Linked DNA regions of Homo sapiens: region 2 is linked to region 1. The links come from fine-mapping of genetic effects on plasma protein levels. A gene starts in region 1. The other region holds a variant in brackets. All regions are shown on one strand. Distances are between the middles of the regions.

Region 1 (13,176 bases):
TTTATAAGCTTAAGGGGTTTTGGGCCAAGACTATGGGGTTTTCTAGATATAGAATCATATCATCTGCAAACAGGGATAGTTTGACTTCCTCTCTTCCTATTTGGTTGGCCTTTCTTTCTTTCTCTTCCCTGATTGCTCTGGCCAGTACTTCCAATACTATGTTGAATAGGAATGGTGATAGAGGGCATCCTTGTCTTGTGCTGGTTTTTAAGGGGAATGCTTCCAACTTTTGCCCATTCAGTATGCTGTTGATTGTAGGTTTGTCATAGGTGACTAATTATTTTGAGGTATGTTCCTTCAATACCTAGTTTATTGAGAGATTTTTTTTTAACATGAAGTGATGTTGAATTTTATCAAAAGCCTTTTCTACATCTTTTGAGATAATCGTGTGGTTTTTGTCTTTAGTTCTATTTATGTGATGAATCACATTTATTGATTTGTGTATGTTGAACCAACCTTGCATCCCAGGGATAAAGCCCACTTAATCATGGTGGATAAGCTTTTTGATGTGCTGCTGGATTCAGTTTGCAAGTATTTTGTTGAGGATTTTGCATTGATATTCATCAAGGATATTGGCCTGAAGTTTTCCTTTTTTTCTTGTGTCTCTGTCAGGTTTTGGTATCAGGATGATGCTGATTGCATAGAATGAGTTGGGGAGGAGTCCCTCCTCCTCAGTTTTTTGGGTTAGTTTCAGTAGGAATGGTACTAGCTTGTCTTCATACATCTGGTATAAACTGGCAATAAATCCATCTGGACCTGAGCTTTTTTGTAGTTGGTAGGCTATTTATTACTGATTCAATTTTGGAGCTCATTATTGGCCTGTTCAGGCAGTTTGTTCCTGGTTTAGTCTTGGGAGGGTGTATGTGTCCAGGAATTTATTAATCTCTTCTAGGTTTTCTAGTTTGTGTGTATAGAGATATTGGTAGTAGTTTTTTGCTGGTTGTTTGTATTTCTGCGGTGTCAATGGTAACATCCCCTTTGTTATTTCTAATTGTGTTTATTTGAATCTTCTCTCTTTTCTTCTTTATTAGTAGCCTATCTATCTTATTAACTTTAAAAAAAAAACCCTCCTGGATGCGTTGATCTTTGAATGGTTTTTTGTATCTCAATCTCCTTCAGTTAAGCTCGATTTTGGTTATTTCTTGTCCTCTGCTAGCTTTGGGGTTGGTTTGCTCTTTTCTAGTTCTTTTGGTTGTGATGCTAGGTTGTTAATTTGAGATCTTTCTAACATTTTGTTGTGGGCATTTAGTGTTGTAAGTTTCCCTCTTAACACTGCCTTACCTGTGTCCCAGAGATGCTGGTATGTGGTATCTTTGTTCTCATTTGTTTTAAAGAACTTCTTAACATCTCCCTTAATTTTATTATTTATTTACCCAAAAGTCATTCAGGAGCAGGTTGTTTGATTCCATGGTTTTGAGTGATTTTTTAAAGTCTTGGTTTCTATTTTTATTGCATTGTGGTCTGACAGTGTGTTTGTTATGATTTCAGTTTTTTGCCATTTGCTGAGAATTGTTTTGTGTCTGATTGTGTGGTCAATTTTAGAGTATGTGCTATGTGGCAATGAGAAGAATGCATAGTCTGTTGTTTTCGGGTGGAGAGTTCTGTAGATCTCTATCATATCCATGTGGTCCAATGCTGAGTTCAGGTCCTGAATATCTTTGTTAATTTCTTGCCTTGATGATCTGTCTAATACTGTCAGTGGAGTGTTGAAGCCTCCAACTATTATTGTGTGGGAGTCTAAGTCTCTTTGTAGGTCTCTAAGAACTCGCTTTATGAATCTGAGTGCTCCTGTGTTGGGTGCATTTATATTTAGGATAGTTATATCTTCTGGTTGAATTTAACACTTTACCATTATGTAATGCCCCGGTCTTTTTTGATTGTTGTTGGTTTAAAGTATATTTTGTCTGAAATTAGAATTACAATCCCTGATTTTTTTCTGATTTCCATTTGCTTGATAGATTTTTCTGCATCCCTTTATTTCAAGCCTATAGGTGTCATTGTGTGTGAGATGGATCTCTTGAAGACAGCATGAGATCTTGCTTTTTTATCCAGCTTGTCACTTTGTGCCTTTTAAATGGGGGTATTTAGCCCATTTACATTTAAGGTTATTATTGATATGTGTGGATTTGATCCTGTGTTGTTAGCTGGTTATTATGCTGGTTTATTTGTGTGGTTGCTTTATAGTGTCACTAGTCTGTATACTTAAGTGTCTTTTTGTATTGGCTGGTAATGGCCTTTCCTTTGCATATTTAGTGCTCCCTTCAGGACCTCTTGTAAGGCAGGTCTGATGGTAACAAACTCTCAGCATTTGCTGATCTGAAAAGGATCTTATTTATCCTTTGCTTAGGAAGCTTAGTTTGGCTGGATATGAAATTCTTGGTTGAAGATTTTTTTTCTTTAAGAATGTTGAGGCCGGGCGCAGTGGCTTGTGCCTGTAATCCCAGCACTTTGGGAGGCCGAGGCGGGCAGATCACGAGGTCAGGAGATCAAGACCATCCTGGCTAACATGGTGAAACCCCGTCTCTACTAAAAATACAAAAAATTAGCCGGGCGTAGTGGTGGGCGCCTGTAGTCCCAGCTACTCGGGAGGCTGAGGCAGGAGAATGGCATGAACCCGGGAGGCGGAGCTTGCAGTGAGCCGAGATCGCGCCACTGCACTCCAACCTGGGCGACAGAGCCAGACTCCGTCTCAAAAAAAAAAAAAAAAAAAAAAAAAAAGAATGTTGAATACACGCCTCCAATCTCTTCTGGCTTGTAGGGTTTCTGCTGAAATCTATTAGCTTGATGGGGCTCCCTCTGTAGGTGACCTGCCCTTTCTCTCTAGCTGCCTTTAACATTCTTTCATTTTGACCTTGGAAAATCTGATGATTATATGTCTTGGGGATGATCTCGTTGTGTAGAATATTGCAGGGGTTCTCTGTATTTCCTGAATTTGACTGTTGACCTCTCTAGGGAGGTCGGGGAAATTTTCATGGACAATATCCTGAAATATGTTTTCCAAGTTGTTCACTTTCTCCCCATCCCTTTCGGGGATGCCAGTGATTTGTAGATTTGGCCTCTTTACATAATCCCATATTTCTCAGGAGTTTTGTCATTCCTTTTCCTTCTTTTTTCTTTATTTTTGTCTGGCTATCTTATTTCAGAGTGCCAATTTTTAAGTTCTGCGATTTTTTCCTCAGCTTGGTCTCTTCTGCTGTTAATACTTGTTATTGCATTGTGAAATTCTTTTATTTTTTATTTTATTTTGTTTTTGAGACAAAATCTCACTCTGTTGTCCAGACTGGAGTACAGTGGCATGATCTTGGCTCACTGCAGCCTCTACCTCCCAGGTTCAAATGATTGGCATGTCTCAGCCACTTGAGTAGCTGGGATTACAGGCGTATGCCACCATGCCCAGCTAATTTTTGCAGTTTTAGTAGAAAAAGCGTTTCACTATTTGGCCAGGCTGGTCTTGAACTCCTGGCCTCAAGTGGTCCACCTGCATCAGCCTCCCAAAGTGCTGGGATTACAGGCATGAGCCACTGTGCCCGGCTGCATTGTAAAATTCTTGTAGTGTGTTTTTCAGCTCTATCAGATCAGTTAGGTTCTCTTTTTTACTGGTTATTTCATCTGTCAGGTCCTGCATCATTTTATTGTGATTCTTAGTTTCCTTGGATTGGGTTTTGCCATTCTCCTGAATCTCAATGATCTTCATTCCTATCCATATTCCGAATTCTATTTCTGTCATTTCAGCCAACTCAGCCTCATTAAGAACCCTTGTTGGAGAACTAGTGAGGTTGTTTGGTGGACATAGGACAGTCTGGCCATTGGAGTTGCTGGAGTTCCTGCATTGGTTCTTTCTTTTCTCTGTGCGTGGGTGCTCCTTTAACTGTTGGGCTGCCTCTGATTAAAGGGGCCAGGTAAGGGCGTGGTGGTTGTGCTGGAATCCCAGGCCAGACAGCCCTTCCCAATGAGCAGAAGGTACATGCATTGGCATTCATCAAGAAAACAACTCGACCCACAGAGAACAGAGAAAACAAGACAGGATGACCACCCACCCGGGAGTGACACCTAGTAACAACCTCAGTTCAAAAGTCTGCTGAGGGTGCTGCCTTCAGCTGAAATGAACATGAGGGTGTGGGGAAAGCCCTCCTTAGGAAGAAGGCTTTTTAGGTCTTAGTGAGTCCAAAAAAGAGGAGTGGCAGAAGTCATAAAAGAGGCACACGATGGAAATGTCTGTCCTTTTTAATATCATGGAGGCTGCTAGAGTTCTAACTAGGGAGAGCTCACCAACTAACAAGGCACTGAAGAGCCCACAGCTTGGGGCTCATGGGGACAAGGTCAGGAGATGGTGGGAGGGGATGCAAATTTAGAAGTTCCACCTACGAGGATCCCGATATGGCAAGTACAAAATGCCCAATTAACCTTTTTCTACATGTTTTCTTCCAATGGTGTTTAAGTTCACAGGACATAGACTTTTTTTTTTGACAGGGTCTCACTCTATTGCCCAGGCTGGAGTGCAGTGGTGTGATCACAGCTCATTGCAGCCTTGACCTCCAGGGCTCAAGTGATCCTCCCACCTCAGCCTCCTGAGTAGCTGGGACTACAGACATGCTCTAGCATGCCTGGCATTCTTTCTTTTTTTTGTGGAGATAGGGTCTCACCATGTTGCCCAGGCTGATCTCAAACTCCTGAACTCAAGCAACCCTCCTGCTTTGGCCTCCTAAAGTATTGGTATTACAGGTGTGAGCCACCACACCTGGCCCACAGGACATGGATTCTGAACAACTGGCATAAATCGACTGGCCTCAAGGTAAGGTTTTAAACTAAGCTTAAGCTTTTCTGTTGCCCTCAGATACCACTGAATTTCTTCTTCAGATTTTGGTGACATTAAGTGGTGGTTTCTGGAAATACAATTTTAATTTTGCTTGGGATGATTGTCTTGGGGTCTGGGGATAGCTCATTTTCTAAATTTTGTGGTTGTGGGGCTGGTGTTGCAATATTCTTGTGTCTCATTAACTTTCTGGAATTTTAAAAACAGACTCATGGAAGGTTTGCCTCAGAACTCAGTCTTTGAAGCCTTGGAGGAACTAACCTGTTCCAGCCCAGGCCGCAGCTTCGGAAGGGACCACAGCTCTGCCCAGGGATTGGAAACCCACTAGCTGGGATTAAACAGAACACAAATTGGAACTGATAGTTTTGTGACTTTAACATAGACACTTTGGGCTTCAATTACTTTTGACTTTAATGTCATAGTTTCAGTTTGCAATGGGATTTGAACTTTAATTTTGGAGTTTGATTAATGGGAGGGTTATTTGTTGTTCAAATTTGAAAATGGGAGGGTTATTTGTTGTTCAAAACCTTTATTGTTGGCAATCCCTTGTTGGAGCTTCTTAATACCATCATTTAATCTCATTGTGGATCTCCGATAGCTACTTAGATAACATGGCTGCATGAAATTTTATTTTATTTATTTTTGAGACAGGGTCTCACTCTGTTGCCCAGGCTGGAGTGCAGTGGTGTGATCATAGCTCATTGCAGCCTCAAAATCCTGGGCTCAAGTTATCCTCCTCCCTTGGCCTCCTGAGTAGCTGGGACTACAAGTGCGTGCCACTATGCCTGACTAATTTTTTGACTTTTTGTAGAGATGAAATCTTGCTATGTTCCCCAGGCTGGTCTTGAACTCCTGGCATCAAGTGATCCTCTCTTTTTGGTCTACCAAAGTGCTGGGATTACAGCACTTTGGCATGAGCCACTATGCCTGACCAATGAAATTTGAGGTGGGAAACGGAGCACCCAGGCTGAAGTGCAATGCTGTGGTCATAGCTCACTGCAGGCTTGAACTCCTGGGCTCAAGCAATCCTCCTGCCTCTCAGCCTCCTGAGTAGCTGGGACCACAGGATGGCTAATTTTTAAACTTTTTTGTAGAGATGAGGTCTCCCTATGTTGCCTAGGCTGGTCTTGAACTCCCAGCCTCAAGCGATCCTCCCGCCTCAGCCTTCTGAGTTGCTGGGATTACAGGTGTGAGCCACTGCTCCTGGCAATGTATTTCAATTTCGTGGCAAAATTGCAGAAATGAACATAAAACACAGGTGAGGATAGGAGAGTCTAACTTTTCTGGCAAGATCGGGCAGTGTTGAGCTCCAAGGAAAAGGAGAAGGAACCCTGGACACATTGATAAGGCGTCCTCTTTTCCTTGGTATTAACTGAAGCATGCTCTTGATGGGGAGGAAGCTGCTGCTACTGCTGCCGTGTTTGGTGTTTGGAGAAGTTAATATGGTTTGTTATTTGTTAAAAGCTTACTGAGTACCAGGTATATGCTGAATGCTTAGCATACGTTATTTTGTTTAATCTTGGCCACAATGGGCCCTGACAGTGATAGCTGTGTCTGAAGTAGGTGCTATTATTCCCATTTTACACCTGATAAAGCTGGAGCTCAGAGAGGCATAGTAACTTTTTCAAGGTCACACGGCTAAAATGAAAGGTAATGAATGGTTTGAATTCACTTTGGCACATTCAATCAACCAATCCTCAGATACTCACTGAGCGTGTTGTATCAGCCATTATTTTTAGTTGCAAGCAGTAGAAACCAACTCTGGCTGAGTTTAGCAGAAGATGAATTTATTAAAGGGACCCTGGATTGCTCATGGAAATTCCAGGGGAGCTACAGAGCCATTGTGGAAGCTTCCCAGCAGGGACAATGGTCAGAACCTGGCTGCCGCTGCTGCCACTTCTTTGACCATGGCCTGGATGCTTCGGCTTGCAATGCTTACCCACTGGGGCTGGATGCTGGGTGCTGCTGAGAACTCTACCTCCTCTGTGATCTTGCTGTGGCCACCACTGTCCCTACAGGCTCTAGGGTCCCTGCTTCCTGGCATTACTGGCTCTGGATTGAAAGCCTGGGCCTCTGATGAATGGAACGTGTGTGCATGTGAAACTGCCTTTGCAAAGATGATGACAGTGAGGGAAGTCTAGCATGGGTGACTCCATCTTGCCTCTACCCTCACAGGCTGGCTGTCCTCACTCATTCCTGGGCATAGGCCAAGCTAACCATGGGAGGAATTTAGTTTACAGTTTAACTCTGAAGCAAAGATGATATTAGTCCCTCCCTAAAATGAACCCCCTCCTAGCTCAGGGACCTGCCTTTGTAAAACTAATGAAAGGCCACAAGATTAGGATTATGGGAGGGGCTTGAATTTTGCTAAGATGTGGGTGTAGCTAACCGATGACCAGCCATTGACCCCTAGCTTGCCTTTCTATAATCCTTTGCTGCTCAGGAGTCATGCGGCCAGAGGTCACAAGATCTGTGACTTCCCCAATTGCTCCTATAGATAACATCACTATTGTAAAACCAAATATTGGTCTTCTGAGATATTTTTCAGACTTTTGCATTCTGAAATGATTCATGACTCAACTGGTCCTGTGACCCCCACCCAGAGGTGGACTTAGTGCACAAGGTCTGTTTTCTACACTCCTATGATTTTATCCCCAACGAATCAGTAGCACCCATTCTCTGCTCTTACCGCCCACCAAATTCTCCTTAAGAACCCTAGCCTCTGAGTTCTTGTGGGGACTGATTTGAGAAATAAACTCCCATCCTTTCACTTGGCTAGCTCTGTGTTGTTAAACTCTTTCTCTACTGCAATACCATGGTCTCAGTGAATTGGTTTTGTCTACGCAGCAGGCAGGAAGAACCCTTCGGGTGATTACAAATTAGCCTGCTCCAGAGCTGCTGGAGGTGGGGGTGACACACTTCTTGTGCCTGTGTCTTCTTTCTTGGGAGGTCGGCTCTGTTCCCAAGACTGATATCATGGGGAACTCCTCTAATGTGGCAAAGCAGTTTGAATGCTGGGCAGCCAGGGGAGTCACAGATGGTTGCATACACATCTGTGTTCTGCATGACACTGCTAGACATGGCGGACAATACCAAGACGGATCAGACCCAGCACCTGTCTTCCGAGACCTTACGGGCTCATGATTCTCTTCCTTTTAACATGCACATTTATTAGGTACCATAGTGTGCAAAGCTTGTTCACTCGAATTATTTCATTAGGTCCATCTGATAGTCATGTAGGGTAGGCAGAACTGATAGGATTTCTGTTTTATATTTGAAGAAACTAGGTCTGTCAATAGTGAGCCAGGTTTAAAAAAAAAAAGAAACTAGGAAGTTAGGTGATGAGCCTAAGACATCACCACTGGTGAGGAGCAGAGCTGGGACATGAGCCTATCTTCTGACTCCAGGCCCAGTGCTAAGCCAACTAAAGGGGCATAAAGGGGAGCTGAGATCAGGGAAGGCTCTGTGGAGTGGCACTGCCCCTCAGTCCCTTGTCTGCAATTCTAAAATCCAAAGGACTCTGAAAACAAAGTCTCTGTCTTTTTTTTGTAATGGGATCTCATTCTGTTGCCCAGGCTGGAGTGCAGTGGTGCCCTCTGCAGCCTCGACCTCCCTGGCACAAGTGATCCTCTTGCCTCAGCCTCCTGAGTAGCTGGGACTACAGGCGTGTGTCACAATACCTGGCTATTGTTTTTTGTTTGTTTGTTTTCAAGTTTGGGACTAAAACTCAATTTGGCAGCAAAACCTGACCCGAACTGATGTGATTTGTAATCTTTAGTTATCCATTTACCGTAAGATCAATGTGTTTAGCTGCAGAAATCTTAATGTTTGTTAATAGGGGGTTATCCTGGTCCATAAAGGGAGGGAGAGGAGGAGGTGTTACCTAATATTGGGTCCATGGACTACATAGCCTAAAAAAATCTATAAAATTTCAAAACACACCTGGCTTCAAGGGTTATGGATAAGGGAGTCTGGGTTGGATCTGAAAGGGGGCTTGGTTGTGGGGTAGAATTTCGATGTTTGGAAGGGATGTGGAGGGATGTTATGAAGAGGAAGCCTCACGCCATACCACCTTGGGTCTTGGTGTTAAGTCATTATCAACCATTACATTTGCTTTAAAGCAGAGATGACTTACATTTCTGATAACTACTTTCCCTTAATTCATGATTCACACACATTTGGAGGGCTGGACTTTCTGGGTTTGGTTATTTCCCCTGGTACCAATCCCCGCCTTTTCCCAGAAATCACTTGACTTTCCCGAAAACTCAGAAACACACCCTTTGGCTGAAAAATAGCATTAAGCAATCGGTGAAATTCCCCATTCCTCCTTTCCCCGCTGGAGCCCTGGATAGAGGGCTCTCTGGCCTGGGAGGAGGACGCTGTCCTTGTTTCAAAAGCAGAGGGAGCTCCAAGATCAAGGCTGAGTTTCCCTAAGTCATGGTCTCCCAGCCCCCTCTGTTTAGATCAGGGAATTTCAGACATGCACACTCGGGTAGGGAATCTTATGAACAGAACCAGGACAGGGAGGCTGGCCGGAGGTTCCTGCAGAGGGAGCGTCAAGGCCCTGTGCTGCTGTCCCTGGGGGCCAGAGGGGTTGCCCAGCATGCCCACTGGCAGGAGAGAGGGAACTGACCCACTTGCTCCTACCAGCTTCTGAAGGTAAAATCCTTACAAACGAGGAGCAGAGCTTTGATGGAGGAAAAAGGAAAGGCAGAAAACTTCACGTAGGAGGGCTTGGGGCAATGATAGAGGGCTGACAAAGGCAGCATAAAAAAAGGCAGAATATAGACAACCTATTTCTCTTAGGCTCACCCCATCCACCCCTACTTCACCCCCTTACCTACCACTGTTTTCAGGGTTAAAGCAATTTTAGCAACCCTTTACTAGGAACTGTGGGGAGATAGCTTGTATTTTCAGTAAGTTGGCGGTGGGGGGCAGGGACAAACTCCAAACAAACTCTGGAAAACGAATGTAGGAAGTTTTTATGTTCCTTGTCATTTGGCTGTCCCTTTTCTCCTTCCTCGCACAACCCTGTATCAGTGGGGCAGCACTTCCTTCTCAGACCGCTTGTCCCAGGGTCCCTGCCTTCCCCTAGTGAAAGAAGCTCCTGCCTCCATCGGTGGGCGTTGGGAGCATCAGCGGAGATGCACGCAATGATAAACAGCAGACAGGGCTGCTTGAGGAGATGAGGTGATCACGGTTAAAGAAGAGGGGCTGTCCTACATGGATGATCATGATGCGCCAAGACTGTTGAAAACCTGAGTGGAAATGGGAGCATCGTTCTTGAGGGCAGGAGAGAGACTGATACCGCGGGGGTGGGGCTGGTGGAGGACAATAGAGGAAGAAGAAAACTGGGAGAAAGTACTCGATTCCTTTGGAGAAAAATTAGGAGAAAGTCTAGAGAAGCAATGAGGGAAGGATACAATTTAGCTATAGTCTAGAAAGTTAGTCGAAGTTAACTAGGGAGGGTGTGAGGGGCACGGTGCCATGTGGGGATGTTGGTGATATGGCCCTGTGTGTTATACCTTTGAAGGTGACACTGAGCCCCAGGTGACGCCGCACCACCAAAGAAGGTGCTTGTGTTTGTCAGACAAATACAGCCAGGCCTGCCACCCCTTAGGCTCCAAAGTCCGGAGGTGCAGAAAGCCAGGACCAAGAGACAGGCAGCTCACCAGGGTGGACAAATCGCCAGAGATGTGGTAAGTGATCAAGGGTCCCTGAGATGACACAGACTCCATTCCCTTCATCTTCTCAAGAAAAGCGCTCAAGGGCCAGGCATGATGGCTCACACCTGTAACCCCAGCACTTTGGGAGGCTGAGGCGGGAGGATTGCTTGAGCCCAGGACTTTGAGACCAGCCTGGGCAACATAAGGAGACCCTGTCTCTATTAAAAAAAAAAAAAATTAGCCCAGCGTCATGCGTGTCACCTGTGGTCCCTGCTACTCAAAAGGCTGAGGTGGTAGAATCACTTGAGCGCGGGAGGTCAAGGCTGCAGTGACCTGAGATCGCACCACTGCACTCCAGCCTGGGTGACAGAGTGAGAACCTGTCTCAAAAAAAAAAAAAAAAGGGCTCTTGTCTGAAGCCTGGGTTTTGGTTTGACCTGGGCCTTTTCTTTATTCCGACCTAAGATTCTCCCCCATGGCCGATTGACTGCCTCTCTTCTTCCCCCTTTCTTCTGCCTCTGGCAAATAGCGCGTTCTGTCCTAGGCTACTGGTGCCTGGTCACCCGCCAATCTATGCCTCTGTTTTTTCAGGTGCATTGTCCTGTTTTCACTTTTGGCATGGGTTTATGCTGAGCCTACCATGTATGGGGAGATCCTGTCCCCTAACTATCCTCAGGCATATCCCAGTGAGGTAGAGAAATCTTGGGACATAGAAGTTCCTGAAGGGTATGGGATTCACCTCTACTTCACCCATCTGGACATTGAGCTGTCAGAGAACTGTGCGTATGACTCAGTGCAGGTATGTTATAAGCACAAAAAGAATAGAGATGGAAGACTAGGGCTAAGGTAGCGGAATAAGGATGTGGGAGGGAGTGCCACCTGTACTCACAGTGAACTGGAGTCAAGTCCTAGTGGCATAAATGTTCTATTCTCTCTGTCCCTTCTTTTAACTCCATACCAAAATATTACCCTTTCCTAGATTTTTTTTTTGTGACTCTTCTCTTAGATAATCTCAGGAGACACTGAAGAAGGGAGGCTCTGTGGACAGAGGAGCAGTAACAATCCCCACTCTCCAATTGTGGAAGAGTTCCAAGTCCCATACAACAAACTCCAGGTGATCTTTAAGTCAGACTTTTCCAATGAAGAGCGTTTTACGGGGTTTGCTGCATACTATGTTGCCACAGGTAAGGCTCACCCTTCTGCATGTGCCTTATTGACCCAGCTAAAAGATTAGAAATGAGAAATCCACTGAGCAACACATTGAATGAGGATTCTGTTCGTAATTCTTATAAAAAGTGTTGACTTGGCCTGGGTCGCTCCATAAATCACTTTTGTGAAATTCAAATGCATGATCATATCTTAGTGGTGATGATGATCATGGTAATAACACATAGTACATAATAAACAGCAATTTGTTGAGAGCCACTATAAACTGGGTATGTATTGGGGATTGGGGATTTTTCCTATTTTAACACAATCGTCACTTTAATCCTTCAAGGTAGGTATTATTTGCTCCATATAAAGATGAAGAAAATAAGGACTAGGAAAGTTAATAACTTGCCAAGAATCACACAAGGAATGTGTAGTATTTAAACCCATTCAATATATGGCATTCAAACCTTCAAATTCTGGGTACTTCTGTATCTCTCTCTAGGTTAAAATGAAGCTAGGACATCTCATAAAGCCAAACTATTGTTTAGATTTGACAGAAGGACCAACATCATATAAAGCAATGAATGTACTGATTCCTCCCTGCAGAAGGCATCGTCATGATGTTTACCTTGCAGAGTGTCATTCCTGGAGCTGAAATGCTCTGTACATGAGAAAAGTCAAGGATCTCTGACATTAAGAGCTGCCTAGGCCGGGCATGGTAGCTCACACCTGTAATCCCAGCACTTTGGGAGGCTGAGGCAGGTGGATTACCGGAGCCCAGGAGTTCAAGACCAGCCTGGCCAACATGGTGAAACCCTGTCTCTACTAAAAATATGAAAAATTAACCAGGCATAGTGGTGGTGCGTGCTTGTGTTCCCAGCTCCTCGGGAGGTAGAGGCGTGAGACTTGTTTGAACTTGCTTGAAAATGTGGAGGTTGCAGTGAGCCAAGATCCCACCACTGCACTCCAGCCTCGGTGACAGAGTGAGGCTATGTCACTTACACACACACACCCCCGAGCTTCCTTATAGCTGTGTAGTGGTAGGGCTCAACTCTGGAATCATATGTCAGGAGAGTAATATGGAATAATAGTAGCCTGAAATGTGATCCCTTGACGGATCTTTAAGCAATAGGCCTTTCCTACTTTTTCTTACCCTTATGGTTTTGGATTTAACCTCATTCTCCCTTCTTGGTGTTTGTTCTTGACCTCAGCCTCTTTCTACTCTTTGTAGACATAAATGAATGCACAGATTTTGTAGATGTCCCTTGTAGCCACTTCTGCAACAATTTCATTGGTGGTTACTTCTGCTCCTGCCCCCCGGAATATTTCCTCCATGATGACATGAAGAATTGCGGAGGTGAGCTTGGTGTTAAGAGGGTTGCATGTTCCCTGGGATTTGGAATGGCTGAGGCCTCAGAAAGGGCTTTGTCCACCCTTCCAACTTCGATTAGGCCAAGCCTTCATTTGGCACTTCTTTTTTATTTTAGAATTTATTTATTTATGTATTATTTTTAATAATTTCAATAGTTTTGGGGGTACTGGTGTT
Region 2 (16,077 bases), 24 kb before region 1:
ACATTGACAAGGAAATTTGTTACTTCTGTGGTACACAATAATTTTAACATAATGATTTTGATTATTACTGATAATGTACACCAAGTCATATCAGAATTACAGGAGTTTCCCATAATTTTGGAACACATACCAATATCATATTTATACAAATACAGTCCAAAGAAAACCAAACACCATTTTATATTTGACAATGCTTCTTGTATCATTTTTGTAACAAATAAACCAAATTATGTCATTTTTAGAATTTAGGGAAACTAATATCTTAAAGGAATAATTAGGTCAGAAAAAGACATAATTTATCATTTGATTTTGGAAAGTTTGTCAAATATCAAAGCTTTACAACACTTGATATCAAAATAGGATCACAGGTCATTGTAAAATAAGTCATACATTTAACCAAAGTGATAACTGAAGGATTAAAAAAAAAAAAAAAGGTAAAAACCTTCATTCTTTGAGAGGGGAGACAATTTTCCAAATGATAAGCCTTAATAAAAACAGCATGAAGCCAATTAAATTTGGTTTTCAAAATTTTATAAACCATCTATAAAATTTTAATCTTGACCATAAAATATAACTTCCATGAGCCTTTTACAACCTTTATAACATTTATTGAGGAGTCAGTTAATGCTTCAAGAAAACCTTGTTAATCTGACACAGGGGCCCATATGCTAGTCTTGCATCAGTGTGTCTTTGACATTCATGATTAATTTATAGAGAAACTGAACTTGTTTTATCTTTCAAAAGCAGCCCTTACAATCTCATGTGCCCACCTCTTCTGCAATAGCCTCTGGACCTGAGGAGTTGAATAGCTTTAATTTCTGGACTTGGTGTCTGTTTTTTTTTTTTTTTTGAGATGGAGTTTCCCTCTTGTTGCCCAGGATGGAGTGCAATGGCACATCTCGGCTCACTGCAACCTCTGCCTCACAGGTTCAAGTGATTTTCCTGCTTCAGCCTCCTGAGTAGCTGGAATTACAGGCATGTGCCACCATGCCTAGCTAATTTTCTATTTTTAGTAGAGACAGGGTTCCTCCATGTTGGTCAGGCTGGTCTCGAACTCCTGACCTCAGGTGATCCACTCGCCTCGGCCTCCCAAAATGCTGGGATTACAGGTGTGAGCCACCATGTCTGGCCGCTTTTTTTCTTGATATTTGTTAGCAAAAATTACTGGAAGCAGTTTCAGTTCAGCCAGCAAAGCCAGAAATAAACCTTCACTGTCCTACCTTAGAGGTATATCAACTCTCCAGCTCATTTTTTTTTTTTTTGAGACAGGGTCTTGCTCTGTCACTCAGGCCGGAGTACAATCATGGTTCTCCATGACTGGAGTGATACAATCATGGTTCTCCATGACTGGAGTGATACAATCATGGTTCACTGTAGTCTTGACCTCCTGGGCTCAAGTGATCCTCCCACCTCAGCCTCTTGAGTAACTGGGACTATAGACATACACTACCATGCACCACCACACCTGGCTAATTTTTATTTTTGTAGAGATGGGGTCTCATTATATTGCCCAGTCTGGTCTTGAACTCCTGGGCTCAAGTGATCCTCCTGGCTCAGACTCCCAAAGTGCTAGGAGTATAGGCATAAGCCACCATGCCTGTCCAACTCCCCAGCTCTATGTCATAATTTAGTTTTCTGGGATCTTGATTACCTTTCCCTTCCACAAGATATCACATTGATTGCCAATTGCAATCACCATTACACTGATGACATTATGCTGATCAGACCTAGTGAACAAGAAGTGGCAACTATTCTAGACCAAGAAGTGGCAACTATTCTAGACCAAGAAGTGGCAACTATTCTAGACCAAGAAGTGGCAACTATTCTAGACTTTTTTTTTTTTTTTGAGATGGTGGCTCGCTTTGTCGCCCAGGCTGGAGTGCAGTGGTGCGATCTTGGCTCACTGCAACCTCCGCTCCCGGGTTCAAGCGATTCTTCTGCCTCAGCCTCCTGAGTAACTGGGACTACAGGCGCCCGCCACCACGCCCGGCTAATTTTTGTATTTTTAGTAGAGATGGGGTTTCACCATATTGGCCAGCCTGATCTTGAACTCCTGACCTTGTGGTCTGCCCACCTTGGCCTCCCAAAGTGCTGGGATTACAGGCGTGAGCCACCACGCCCAGCCTATTCTAGACTTATTCATAAGAAATTTGTGTATCAGAGAGTGGGAAATAAATCTGACAAAAAATTAAGGATCTCTACTTTAGTGAAATTTGTAGGGGTCCAATGGTGTGGGTCATGTTGAGAGATCCCTTCTATAGTGAAGGATAAGTTGTTGCATCTGGCCCCTCCAACAACCAAGAGAGGCACAACACCTAGTGATCTTTGGATCTTGGAGATAACATATTCCTCATTTGGGTGTGTCACTCCAGCCCATTTACTGAGTGACCCAAAAAGCTGCTAGCTTTTAGGGGAGCCCAGAACAAGAGAAGGCTTTGCAACAGGTCCAGGCTGCTGTGCAAGCTGCTGTATCACTTGGGCCGTGTGATCTAGCAGACCCAGTGATGCTTGAAGTGTCAGTGGAGAAAGGGATATTGTTTGGAGCCTTTGGCAGGCCCCTATAGGTGAATCTCAATGCAAATCGTTAGGATTTGGAGCAAAGCCCTGCCAGCCTTGGTGGATAATTACTCTGCTTTTTTTTTTTTTTTTTTTTTTTTGAGACAGAGTCTCACTGTGTCCTCCAGGCTAGAGTGCAGTGGTGTGATCATAGTTCACTGCAGCCTCAACCTCCCAAGGTATAGGTGATCCTCCTGCCTCAGCCCCCCATTGAGGAGCTGGGACTACAGGCGTGCACTATCATGCTAAGTTAATTTTTTTTTTTTTTTTTTTTTTTTTTTTAGTAGAGATGGGGTTTTGCCATGTTGCCCAGGCTGGTCTTGAACTCCTGGGCTCAAATAATCCACCTGCCTCATCCATCCAAAGTGCTGGGATTGCAGGCATGAGCCACTGCACCCAGCCTACTCTGCTTTTAAGACACGACTCTTACTGAATTTATTTATTTATTTATTTATTTAATTTTATTTTTATTTTAAGACGGAGTCTCGCTCTATCACCCAGGCTGGAGTGCAGTGGTGCGATCTTGGCTCACTGCAAGCTCTGCTTCTTGGGTTCATGCCATTCTCCTGCCTCAGCCTCCCAAGTAGCTGGGACTACAGGCGCCCGCCACCACGCCCAGCTAATTTTTTTTTTTTTTTTGTATTTTCAGTAGAGATGAGGTTTCACCGTGTTAGCCAGGATGGTCTCGATCTCCTGACCTTGTGATCCGCCCACCTCGGCCTCCCAAAGTGCTGGGATTACAGGCGTGAGCCACCGCACCCGGCCTCTTACTGAATTTAAACTGCAGGAAAAAAAAAAAGAAAAAGAAACAGCTCTCAGCCTGATACTGAGTCTCCATAGAGACTGAACACTTACCCATGGGCCGCCAAGTTACTATGCAACCTGAGCTGCCCATCATGAGCTGAGTGTTGCCTGACCCACCAAACCATAAAGTTGGGCATACACAGCAGAACTCCATCATCAAATGGAAGTGGTATATACTTCAGTTGGGCTGAGCAGGCTATGAAGGCACAAGTAAGTTACATGAAGAAGTGGCAGGCCGGGCGCGGTGGCTCACGCCTGTAATCCCAGCATTTTGGGAGGCCGAGGTGGGTGGATCACCTGAGGTTGGGAGTTAGAGACCAGCCTGACCAACATGGAGAAACCCCATCTCTACTAAAAATACAAAATTAGCCGGGCGTGGTGGCGCATGCCTGTAATCCCAGCTACTCGAGAGACTGAGGCAGGAGAATCGCTTGAACCCGGGAGGCGGAGGTTTTGGTGAGCCGAGATCGCACCATTGCACCCCAGCCTGGGGAACAAGAGTGAAACTCTGTCTCAAAAAAAAAAAAAAAGAAGTGGCCCAAATGTCCACTGTCGCGCCTCCTGTTGTCACGGGATCCTTGGGGTGTCACTTTGCCCACTGGAAACCTCTGTGGCTGGTGGTGCCTTCTGCCCGAGTACTGCTCATGCCCACTGGGCTTGTTCTGCCCACTTGGCCTGGCAGGTTGTGGTCAGCTCACACTACTGGCCCGGATCCCACACCTGCCAAGGGTGAGCCAGGTGCAGAGTGGCAAGGGGTATGTGAGCGAGTGAGTGTGGGGTCTAGCCACTGCACACAGTCAGGCATGCAGGTTGCTGCGGCAGGGCAGGTGGCAGCTTTAGATGCTGGCTCCATGCAAGGCTGCAGCTGGACCAGCTATACCACACGTGTCTGGACAAGGGGAACATGGTGGTGCCCAGAAGCTTGGAGACGCCAGGAACCGTAGAGCCCCAAAGAGGGTGTCACAGCCCTGGCTCATGGAGCCCCTAGGTCTGGGCTCCCTGGAGGGCCCCACAGCTCTTCTCTCCTTCTTGTCACCCACAATGTGGCAAGCAGGGGACCATGTTTCAGGCCTCTTTGTGTTACAGCCCTTTCAGTCCCACCATTCAGCAGGTCCTGAGTTCTTGTCCCGCATCCAGGAAAAATGAGGTATGCAGACAACTGGAGGGTGAGCAAGGTGGAGAGGAGCTTCATTGAGTGATAGAACAGCTCTCAGGAGACCTGTAGTGGGTAGCTCCTTTCCACAGGTGGGTGGGTCATCCTGATGAGTGTCCAGCTCTCAGTGGAGAGGAGACCCATGGTGGGTAGCTCCTTTCTGCAGGTAGGTTGGCCCAATGGCTGTCCAGCTCTCAGCAGAAAGGAGACCTGTAGTGGGTAGCCCCTTTCTGCAACTGGTAGTCCCAACACCTATTCACATCTGGCTGAGTCCAGGTTTTATGGGCTCAGAAGGGAGGAAATATGTGCTGATTTGTCCATGGGTGGCTATGGGTGGGCCTGGAAAAAGCACCATAAGTTCTCACTCCAGGGCATGGACTCCACCCAGAACTGGCAGCCTGGCTTCAGGACATCCCTGGCCTGAAGGTGGGGTTTCATCAGAGACCCACCCCTTTTCACCCAGGAGCCTGTCTGCCTCCTGCCACCATCAACGTGCCACCCAGGCTATTTGTACCAAGGGGTGCCCGGAGGCCTGTACCGAGCTTCCCTTGGCGCCCCCACCTTGGTCTCCCTCCTGTGCTCACTGGTGCCCAAAAGTCTGGAGAGAACTGAAGCAGGAGGGGCTGGCACGTTGGTGGTGCCCTGATCATGTGCACACCCACAGGGTTGTGACAACACCAGGCTCAGCTTCAACTTTGCTCCAAAATTGGAGCGTGTGCTGGGAGAGGGGAGAGGCCAGGGAGCAAGAGCAGACACTTCTGAGCCTGAAGGAGCATAGTGGCTTCCTGGCCCACTGAGAGGACAGGGATGCCCTGGTCCAGAGCCATGGCTGGGTGGCTGTAGCTGCACCCAGGAGTCCAGGGCTCCTGCCCTGCCAACTCAGTAGGGGGCGGGGCTCCTGCATGTTTCTAGCCCCCACTGGCTTCACAGTGTGCGCAGCCCTGGACTCACCTTTCCCACTGCAGCTAGCATTCCCACAGTGGCTGCTCCAGACAGGCCAATGCCACCATCACTGCTACACTACATTTGTCTCCTAGATTGCCCCTGTGACTTAATGGGGAGTTGCCTGTGATCAGTTGACAGAAGGGAAGACTTAGGCCTGGTTCTGCATGAACATATGCACCACCCAAGAGTGCTGCAGCACTACAGCCCCTTTCTGTGACATCCCTGAAGGACAGTGATGAAGGAAAGCACTCTCAGTGGACATAACTTATATTTTTAAATTTTTTATTAAGAGACAAGGTCTCCAGTCTCTTTGGTCTAGCCTGCAGAAGTGAGATGATGAAGGGAACGTCATTGTTTTGAAAGCATTGCAATAAGACACACATGTTGTGCCACTGCCATGGCTCTAAGGCCTAGCACCTTCAGAAGTCTACTTGTGACAACTATGACTACCCTGCCAAGTGCAAGAGAAAGTGTAACTGGAGTGCAAAGGCTAAAAGACAAAATACCACCAGGACTGATTGCATGAAGCACCTGAAAATTGTATACCACAGATTCAAGCATGGATTCTGTGGAGGAACACCACCTAAACCCAAGAGAGCAGCTATTGCAGCAACTAGTTTATCTGAAGAATTTCAATGATTTTTCACTATTATTGTCACTATTATTATTTGTCAATAAATGCCATGGTTTAACAAAATCTAAAAAAGAAATAAAAAGAGATGGGATCTCACTTTGTTACATGACCAACAGGTTCATATGCCTCCTGCACAGTAATAGACCAATTACAGTGAGACAGCAGGGATGCAGAAGAGAAAACATTTAATTATCATGGGCAGCCAGATGCGGAGCTGGGAGGAGATTCTCAACTTCATGTCCTCTAGGAGTTCTGAGCTGGGGTTTTTAAGGGGATTGTGGAGGATGAGAGGCTGGAGAATTGGGATCGTTGATTGGGCAGCACAAGAGAGATAAAATAATCAGGACGTGGAAACTGCATTCTTTGGTGAGTCAGCTCCTCATGGGGTCCTTCAGACCAGCTGGTGTCGGTGGGGTCCTTTAGACCAGCTAGTGTCAGTGGGTCCCTTCAGATCAGCTGGCATTATGGGGTTCTTCAGATTAGTTGAGTCAGTGGGGTCCTTCAGATCAGCTGGTATCAATTGGGTCTTTCAGACCAGCTGAGTCAGACCAGCTGGGGTCCTTCAGATCAGCTGGTGTCAGTGGGGTCCTTTAGATCAGCTGCTGTCAGTTGGGTCCTTCAGACCAGCTCAGTTACTGGGGTCTATTAGACCAGTCAAGTCAGTGGGGTTCTTCAGATCAGCTGGTGTCTGTGGGGTCCTTCAGATCAGCTGGAGTCAGTGGAGTCCTTCAGATCAGCTGGAGTCAGAGGAGTCCTTCAGATCAGCTGAGTCAGTGGGATCTTTCAGACTAGCTGAGTCAGTGGGATCGTTCCAATCAACTGGTGTCAGTGGGGTTCTTCAGATCAGCTGAAGTCAGTGGCGTCCTTCAGATCAGCTGGTATCAATTGGGTCCTTCAGATCAGCTAAGTCAGTGGGGTTCTTCAGATCAGCTAAGTCAGTGGGGTTCTTCAGATCAGCTGAGTCAGTGGGTCCCTTCAGACTAGCTTAGTCGGTGGGATCTTTCAGATCAGTTGGTGTCAGTGGGGTCCTTCAGATCAGCTGGTGTCAGTGGGATCCTTCAGATCAGCTAGTATCAGTAGGGTCCTTCAGATCCACTGGAGTCAGTGGGTCCTTTAGACCAGTTGAATGAATGGCATTCTTCAGACCAGTTGAGTTAGTGGGACCCTTCAGACCAAGTTAGTCAGTGGAATCTTTCAGATCAGCTGGTGGCCATGGGGTTCTCAGCTGAATAGTTTCCTCAGAATGCAGGACCTGAAGGACCATCTCAAAGGGAATTTTTTTTATTTTTTTAATTTTTTTAATTTTAGAGACAAGGTCTCACTATATTGTTCAGGCTGGTCTCAAAGTCCAGGGCTCAAGCAATCCTTCCACCTCAGCCTCCCAAAGTGCTAGGATGACAGGCACAAACCGCCTCACCTAGCTCAAAGGGAAATCTTAATGTTTCATAATATTTAGGTGTTATCTATAGGATAGTTTAGGGGAATAATTTAAGGTCTACATGATTTTAGGACAATAGGCACCAAACAACCATGAAGAAGCAGATCAGGGAGCAGGCTGACCTATTGATCAATGCTGAGTGTGCTGCAAGCTGGGTTAATTTTCATTTATCCCCTATCTTCTTCCTTGGTTACTTTTATAAAATTTATAGGGTCAGTGTCAGCTATGTTCGTAGGGTGGTCTTGAGCTCCTGGGCTCAAGCAATCCTCTGCCTCACCGTTCTGAGTTGCTGGGATTACAGGCTTGCACCATGCACGTGGCCCAGTGGGCAGAAGTTTAAGCAGTTTAAGTCCGTTCACTTTTCTTGAAAAGATAGACACCAGATGTGCAAGTATATTCTGATTCATGTTCTGTGGTCA[A/G]TGGTTTGGATGGATGATCAGGGACTTGGAAGGAACATGATTGGATAATTGGTGACAAGGAAATTTGGGGAAGAGGTATATGGATAGACATCTTGAATGGGAAAATAAAGATATTTGTGTCCCATGTGAATGCTTACTAGAGGGTAATCTCAGAAGTTATCTATTAAAATAATAAATTGATTGGATAACCCATTCTGTAGATACCAGTTAGCCTTATTCTCTAGGAACCCCTGCCGTTGCCCAGTGGGCTCATGAATAAAGTGGCCATGGTGGCCAGGATGGACATTATGCATGGGCTTAGTAACATGGACTTCCACTCACCAAGGCTGACCTGGCTACAGCCACTGCTGAATGCCCTATCTGCCAGCAGCAGAGACCAACACAGAGTCCCTGATATGGCCTCATTTCCCAGCATGATCAGCCAGCTACCTGATGGCAGATTGATTACATTAGACTATTTTCATCTTGGAAGAAGCAGTATTTTGTTCTCATTGGAACAGAAATTTACTCTGGATAACAATTTTCCATCCTTACATACACAGCTTCTGCCAAAATTACCATTTGTGGACTTATAGAATGCTTTATCCATTGTCATGATATTCCACTCAGCATTGCTTCTGATTTAGGAACTCACTTCTCAGCAAAAGAAGTGTAGCAGTGAGCCCATCCTCATGGAATTCACTGGTCTTACCATGTTTCATGAACCAATGGGCTTGATAAGATGATAGGATTATTTGAAGATGCAGTTACAGCACCAGCTAGATGGCAATATATTGCAGGGCTGCAGCAATATGTTCTCCAGGGGGCTAAATGTGCTCTGAATCAGCATCCATCATATGGTGCTGTTTCTCCCATAGCCAAGATTCACTGGTTCAGGAATCAAGGGGTGGAAAAGGGAGCAGCACCACTCACTATTATCTCTAGTGACCCACTAGCAGGATTTTTGCTTCCTGTTTCTGAAACCTTATGCTATGCCAGTCTACTGGTCTTAGTTCCAATGGGAATAATTCTCCCACCAAGAGACAGCAATGATTCAATTGAACTGGATCTTAAGACTGCCACCCAGTCACTTCACCCTCCTTATACCTCTGAATCAACAGGCAAAGAAGGGAATTACTGGGCTGGTTGGTGATTGATCCTGTCTACCAAGGGGAAATTGGACTGCCTCTTCACAATGAAGGTAAGGAGGAACATGCCTGGAATACAGGAGACCCCTGAGAGCATCTCTTAGTATTGTCATGCCTGTGATTAATGTCAATGGAAAACTACAACAGCCCAATCCAGGCAGGACTACTAATGGCCCAGTCCCTGCAGGAATGAAGGTTTGGTTCACTCTACCAGATAAAGAACCACAACCAGCTGAGTGAGGTGCTTGCTGAAGGCAAAGGACATACAGAATGGGTAGTGGAAAAAGGCAGTTATAAATATCAGCTATGACCACATGATCACTTACAGAAATGAAGACTGTAATTATCATAAGTACTTCTCGTTTTTTTAAAATTTATTTTTAATTTTTAAATTAATTGTTATTAATAGAAATGGTGTATCACCATTTTGCCCAGGCTGGTCTCGGATGTACTCTCCTTGTTTTGTAATGAATATATATAAAATATCCTTGTTTTCTTTCCTCTCTTACTTCCTGTTTTGTAACATAAAATGTATTGACTCTATATCATAGTATTTAACTATTTTAAATTTTACATCATAGTGTTTAAGTTATGAGATATCAAGGAGAAGAACAAACATTATTTAAGGACTTCGCCTTCTCTTCTGGGGAAGAGGTAGTGCCTTTTCAGTTGTATGTAGAATGATTGTATCACGTTGGGTGGAATTATGACCTTGTCATTGTTTTTATTTGGAGAATAAGAATGGTTTCAGAAGATACATTTGGGTGTCAAGTTGACAAGGGGTGGACTTGTGACAGTTAATTTTATGTGCCAATTTGACTGGGCCATGGAATGCCAAAATATTTGGTTAAACATTATTCTGGATATACCTGTGAAGGTGTTTTTGGATGAGATTAACATTTGAATTGGTAAACTAAGTAATGCCGATTGTCCTCCCCAGGGTGAGTGGGGCTCATCCAATCCATGGAAGGGCTGACTAGAGTAAAAGGCCAAGTAAGGGAAAATTTACACTCTGTCTTTGAGCTAAGATATTATTCTTCTGGTTTTGGACCCATAGAGTCAGAATAAAACTTATACCATTGGATCTCCTGGTTCTAAGGCTTTCAGACTCAGACTAGAGTCCGACATATACGAGAGGGTCTTAAAAAGTGTATGAAAAATGCATATTATGAAAAAAACTATGCATGGATTAAAAAAATTTTGGCCCCAAAATAAATTCTTACTAACTTTATTATAACATGTCTGAACAGGATCTAGTTTGAGGCACTAGGAAGGGTAAGAAATCAGTTTGAAAAGAGCCCCTTGCTCTGTGGCTGGGTAGTGCTGGAGGTTAGCTTCCTCTAGGCCACTGAGCTCTCACGTCACTGCAGAAGGCCTTATCTGCAGAGACTTCCCATGCCAAGCAGGCCTGCCCCGTCAGAGAGAATGGCAGAAAGCTCGTGTGTGTCCTGGGGAGATGGTCAGAGGGAGCCACCTTCCAGCTGAACCCCAATAAGTACTCGTAGCTCACGGTGTAAACGCCCTCCAGAGGTTGCAGCTGTATACCCAAAGGTCCCGGCCAGCCCCTGTGCGCCCCTGTGTTGACTGGGTTTGGGGAGGACACAGATGGGGGCGTAGGAGGTGTGTAGCCCTGACTCAGCTTCCTGGTTGCATCCTAGTCTAGTGTTGTTTGAAGTCACGTGGACGTGGCCTCCCCTTAGAGGCTGGTGAGGGCATTTGAGGGCAGTTGTGTGCTCCTGGCCTGGGGCTGTGCTTTTGTGGCTGTGTGTGTGTGTGTTGGCGGGGGAGGGAGGGAGGTGCCCTAGTTGTGCACGGTACTCTGCAGCCCAGCGCCCTGCCGAGGCTTCTGCTGAGAGGAGACAGCGTGCTGGCAGTCCTCAGAGCCCTCGCTTGCTCTTGGCACCTCCTCTGCCTGGGCTCCCACTTTGGCGGCATTTGAGGAGCCCTTCAGCCCACCACTGCACTGTGGGAGCCCCTTTCTGGGCTGGCCAAGGCTGGAGCCCACTCCCTCAGCTTGCAGGGAGGTGTGGAGGGAGAGGCGCGAGCCGGAACCCGGACTGCGTGCGGCGCTTGCGGGCCAGCTGGAGTTCCAGGTGGGCGTGGGCTTGGCGGGCCGGCACTTGGAGCAGCCGGCCAGCCCTGCCGGCCCCGCGCAATGACTTAGCACCCGGGCCAGTGGCTGCGGAGGGTGTACTGGGTCCCCCAGCAGTGCCAGCCCACCGGCGCTGCACTTGATTTCTCACCGAGCCTTAGCTGCCTTCCCGCGGGGCAGGGCTCGGGACCTGCAGCCTGCCATGCCTGAGCCTCCCACCCCCTCCATGGGCTCCTGTGCTGCCCGAGCCTCCCCGACGAGCGCCGCCCCCTGCTCCACGGCGCCCAGTCCCATCGACCACCCAAGGGCTGAGGAGTGCAAGCGCACTGCACGGGACTGGCAGGCAGCTTCACCTGCAGCCCCGGTGCGGGATCTACTAGGTGAAGCCAGCTGGGCTCCTGAGTCTGGTGGGGACGTGGAGAGCCTTTATGTCTAGCTCAGGGATTGTAAATACACCAATCAGCACCCTGTGTTTAGCTCAAGGTTTGTGAGTGCACCAATCGACACTGTGTATCTAGCTGCTCTGGTGGGGCCTTGGAGAACCTTTATGTCTAGCTCGGGGATTGTAAATACACCAATCGGCACTGTGTATCTAGCTCAAGGTTTGTAAACACACCAATCAGCACCCTGTGTTTAGCTCAAGGTTTGTGAATGCACCAATCGACACTCTCTATCTAGCTGCTCTGGTGGGGCCTTGGAGAACCTGTGTGTCGAAACTCTGCATCTAACTAATCTGATGGGGACGTGGAGAACCTTCATATCTAGCTCAGGGATTGTAAACGCACCAATCAGCGCCCTGACAAAACAGGCCACTCGGCTCTACCAATCAGCAGGATGTGGGTGGGGCCAGATAAGAGAATAAAAGCAGGCTGCCCAAACCAGTATGGACAACCCGCTCGGGTTCCTTTCCGCGCTGTGAAAGCTTTGTTCTTTAGCTCTTCGCAATAAATTTTGTTACTGTTTGGGTCCACGCTGTTTTTATGAGCTGTAACACTCACCGCAAAGATCCGTAGCTTCAGTCCTGAGCCCAGCCAGACCACGAGCCCATAGGGAAAAACGAGTAATTACAGACGGGCTGTCTTAAGAGCTGTGACACTCACCGCGAAGGTCTGCAGCTTCACTCCTGAGCCAGCGAGACCACGAACCCACCAAGAGGAAAAAACTCCGAACACATCTGAACATCTGAAGGGACAGACTCCAGACGCACCACCTTAAAAGCTGTAACACTCACCGCGACGGTCTGCGGCTTCATTCTTGAAGTTAGTGAGACCAAAAATTCACCAATTCCGGAAACACTGCGAGGCAGCAGCGTGTCTTACACAGACGGAACCGCCGTTCCCCTGCCATGTTCAGGCGGGTCGGCAGGCTTTGTTCGTTATTCTGAGTGGCAGTCGGGAAGGGCAGCTGAACCCCGCCCGGGGATCTAGAGTTGCTGGTCAGGAACTGGAGAGAGGCCTGGCGGGCCTGGTTGTGTTTGTATTTGGGCTTTCTCTGGGGCCGTGGAGTGATAGGAAAGGTTGGCGTTTCCCTTGGAGATGCACCTTTTCTAGTGATTGTGTTTGCAGGGTGAGTCTGACCCGCTGAGCCACAATGAGCAAGGACAAGGAATATTTTTCAATTAACTTCTTAATTCTCGTGAGTGTGGCTTATGATCTCCTTTGTGGTTTGTTGATTATAAGGCGCACCCTGACGTTAGAAATAATAAAATGAGTGTGCCTTAGCATCAGAGTGTCACCATCTGACGCTCTAGGACTGGGCAGAGCCCAGGTCCTCTTCTCTGGAGTACTCGGCTACCACCTTGCCGTGCAGGGGGCTCCCTCCCTCCCTTCACTGCACACTCTCGGTTACTTCTTTCTCAATTCCATCCGCACAGCTTCCTGCCTCAACCTTTTCTGCCTTCTGCAGGAGCAGATGTTCCCACAAGGAACACGGGAGGTGCCAAGGTTGGGTTTCCAGCATAAGGCTGAGCCTTCTGCCCTCGGTTTGACCCTGGGTGGCACTGTTAGCTGGAGGCCACGAGAGCTGCCTTGGACGTGTGGGGCCAGCGAGCAGCGGCCCCTCACTCGTGGAGCATTGTTGCAGCCGGGCAAGTCTGCCATTGCTCATCCTCTTAGTCTTGCTCCCAGCTGCGACTTGTTCTTACATGTTCTAGATGCAAGGCTTTTGTGTGTGTGTGGTTTGTAAATATTTTGTCCCAGTCCATCGCTTATCTTTTACATCCTCTTAAGGGGGGTTTTGCAGAGAAAAGGTTTTTTTCTTTTCAAATTTGGTGAAGTCTGATTTATCAATTTTCCTTTTTAAGGATCTGATTTTGGTGTCATGGTTAAGAATTCCTCAATGACTCCCAGGTCCCAAAGATTTTTCCTACCTTTTCTTTGCTCTTTCTTTCTTTCCTTTCTTTTTCTTTCTTTTTTTTTTTAGATGGAGTCTTGCTCTTGTTGCCCAGGCTGGAGTGCAATGGCGTGATCTTGACTCCCTGCAATCTCTGCCTCCCTGGTTCAAGCAATTCTGCCTCAGGCTCCGGAGTAGCTGAGATTACAGGTGTGCACCACCACACCCGGCCCAGGCTGCAGTGCAGTGGCACGATCTCGGCTCACTGCAAGCCCTGCCTCCCAGGTTCACGCCATTCTCCTGCCTCAGCCTCCTGAGTAGCTGGGACTACAGGCGCCCGCCACCACACCCGGCTAATTTTTTTGTATTTTTAGTAGAGACAGGGTTTCACCGTGTTAGCCAGGATGGTCTTGATCTCCTGACCTCGTGATCTGCCTGCCTCGGCCTCCCAAAGTGCTGGGATTACAGGCGTTGAGCCACCGCACCTGGCTTCTCTGTTTGGTTTTCTATAACATTATTCTTTTTTTTTTATAGAGACAGTGTCTCATTATGTTGCTCAGGTTGGTCTTGAATTCCTGGTCTCAAGCCATCCTCCTGCCTCAGCCTCCCAAAGTGCTGGGATTACAGGCGTGACCCACTGCACCTGGCCAGCATTCTTTTTTTTTTTTTTAAACTGTTGAACACTCTGTAATTATTAGGTAAAATTAATAGTACTTCACAATTATATATATCACTTTACAGTTTACAAAGTTACTAAGTAGACATTTGTTTTGATGCCCCAAAATAAAATTTAACTTCTTTGTCCTCCCTTCTCCCCTCCATCAAGGAAAGACTAAGGAACATTTAATCAGAAAAGGCAATATAAGTGCATCAATCTGTACAGAACTGCAAAGAATAAAGGGGAGGAGGGTAGGACCCTGAAGAGGGCCACAGGGACTTCAGGAAGGAGAAAACCAGAGTGTTAAACGTGAGGAAAGCCCAGGGGTGACAGGGAGTTAACCACCATAAGGGGCAGGTTGTATTCACTACATAAAAGGAGGGGCACACGGCATATGTTTCACATTCTAAAATAATATGACAATATCATAACTGAAGAGCTGAAGTTGAATTTTGTGGTTTCTCAGAACACAAGTAGAAGATGACCACCAACCATGGTTTCTGAATAAACTGAGTTCAAAGTGCATCTGGTTGCAGCAGGGGGCTTCCTTGGACTCTGATACTAGAAATTTAACAAAGGTAATTCGAGGAGCTGCGATTTTACATAGTGGTGGCATCCTAGGGGGCATCTATCGCATCAGTTAAGTTTAATATCTGGCAATCATGGAAAAGGAGTTTCTGAGCAGGTAATACTTGGGCCATCTCTTGGAGATTCCTGCTGTAAGGACTAAGTTTCTCCAGAGAAAGCACTTGCCTGGGTATGACTCAGGGCCGGGCAAAAATTCACACTATGAATCTGGTGGAAGGGGGAGAAGTATGCCTGGTGGGACCACATTCCCATAATTCTCTAACCTCACATCTCTGTAGAGTTCCCTCTGAACAAGGTCCAGGTATCTCCATTCCTCTTGAGTAAGGTGCACAGCCACATCCTCAGATGTCACAAACTGCTGATACCTGGCTGTCAGGAGCGCAGCTGCCTGATCTCCTGGGCTGTCCTCATGGGGAAAGGCAGGCACCTGGGGAACAGGTGGAACCCTAGTGAGTCCCTGTTCCATGTCGGTGTCCTGCACAAAATGAGGCTTTGGAGTCAGACTCTCAGACTGGGTCTCCAAAAACTGAAATCGGACCCTTGGTGAGCCTGCTGCTTCCTGGGCTGGTATTTTCTCCATCCCTGTTCTGGAGGACAATGACCGTCGCAGCTTGCATCAGGACATGGCCACTGGGTCCTGATGGCGAGGCCCGCCCTCGGTCTGTGGGGTGAACTGGGGCTGAAGAGAAATAGGCCTTTGCACCCAAGCATCTGCACACTCTTGGGGAAGGAAACCACTGTCCCATATTCTTTACATTATCCTTGTCATTTAGGATCTCCAGGATTGGCTTCAGTGTTAATGATTCTTTGTCATTATTTTCCTGTAAGAGTGCCCTTTTATCTAAAGATTTCAGTTCATTTATTTGACAGAAATCTTCAACCATATATATAAAAATATATAAATATATATATATACTTTTTTTTGGTGACAGAGTCTCATTCTGTCACCCAGGCTGGAGTGCAGTGGCGTGATCTCAGCTCACTGCAACCTCCGCCTCCCAAGTTCAAGCGATTCTCCTGTCTCAGCCTCTGGAGTAGCTGGGATTACAGGTGTGCACCACCACACCTGGCTAATTTTTGTATTTTTAGTAGAGATGGGGTTTCACCATGTTGGCCAGGCTGATCTTGAACTCCTGACCTCAGGTAATCTGCCTGCTTTGGCCTCCCAAAGAGCTGGGATTACAGGCGTGAGCCACCATGCCCATACTCAACCATATCTTTGAATACTTTCCCATTCCAGTTGTTATATTCTTTTCTCAAAACACCAATCATGTATCTCCTTGATCCATTTTCATCAGCGTCTCTGCGATTTTATCCCTTTGCACTTTTCCA

Alleles and levels. Positions count from the first base shown, and alleles are read on the strand shown. Strength reflects both the effect of a copy and how common the allele is.
As copies of A replace G in region 2, the plasma level of the protein whose gene starts at base 9,313 in region 1 goes up (weak association).

The links. PIP is the chance, under the fine-mapping model, that this variant and not a neighbour inherited with it causes the effect. The UK Biobank Pharma Proteomics Project read protein levels with antibody pairs (Olink). The fine-mapping took linkage between variants from a reference panel, not from the people measured, so its PIPs are less certain.
Region 2: its variant is fine-mapped to the plasma level of the C1S protein (UK Biobank, PIP above 0.99).

What each region holds. Positions count from the first base shown.
Region 1 is chr12:7,051,406-7,064,581 of GRCh38, forward strand. It overlaps C1S (complement C1s), which reads left to right and starts at 9,313. Exons shown (of 12, transcript NM_001734.5): 1 at 9,313-9,472; 2 at 10,434-10,512; 3 at 11,070-11,277; 4 at 11,485-11,662; 5 at 12,862-12,987. The coding sequence starts at 10,508. RefSeq lists enhancers at 8,900-9,401, 9,402-9,901.
Region 2 is chr12:7,026,317-7,042,393 of GRCh38, forward strand. It overlaps the pseudogene RPL37P20 and the pseudogene LOC100419825. Among named protein-coding and RNA genes, the nearest start is that of LPCAT3, 16 kb to the left of the region's middle. The variant A/G (reference allele first, on the strand shown) is at 7,950.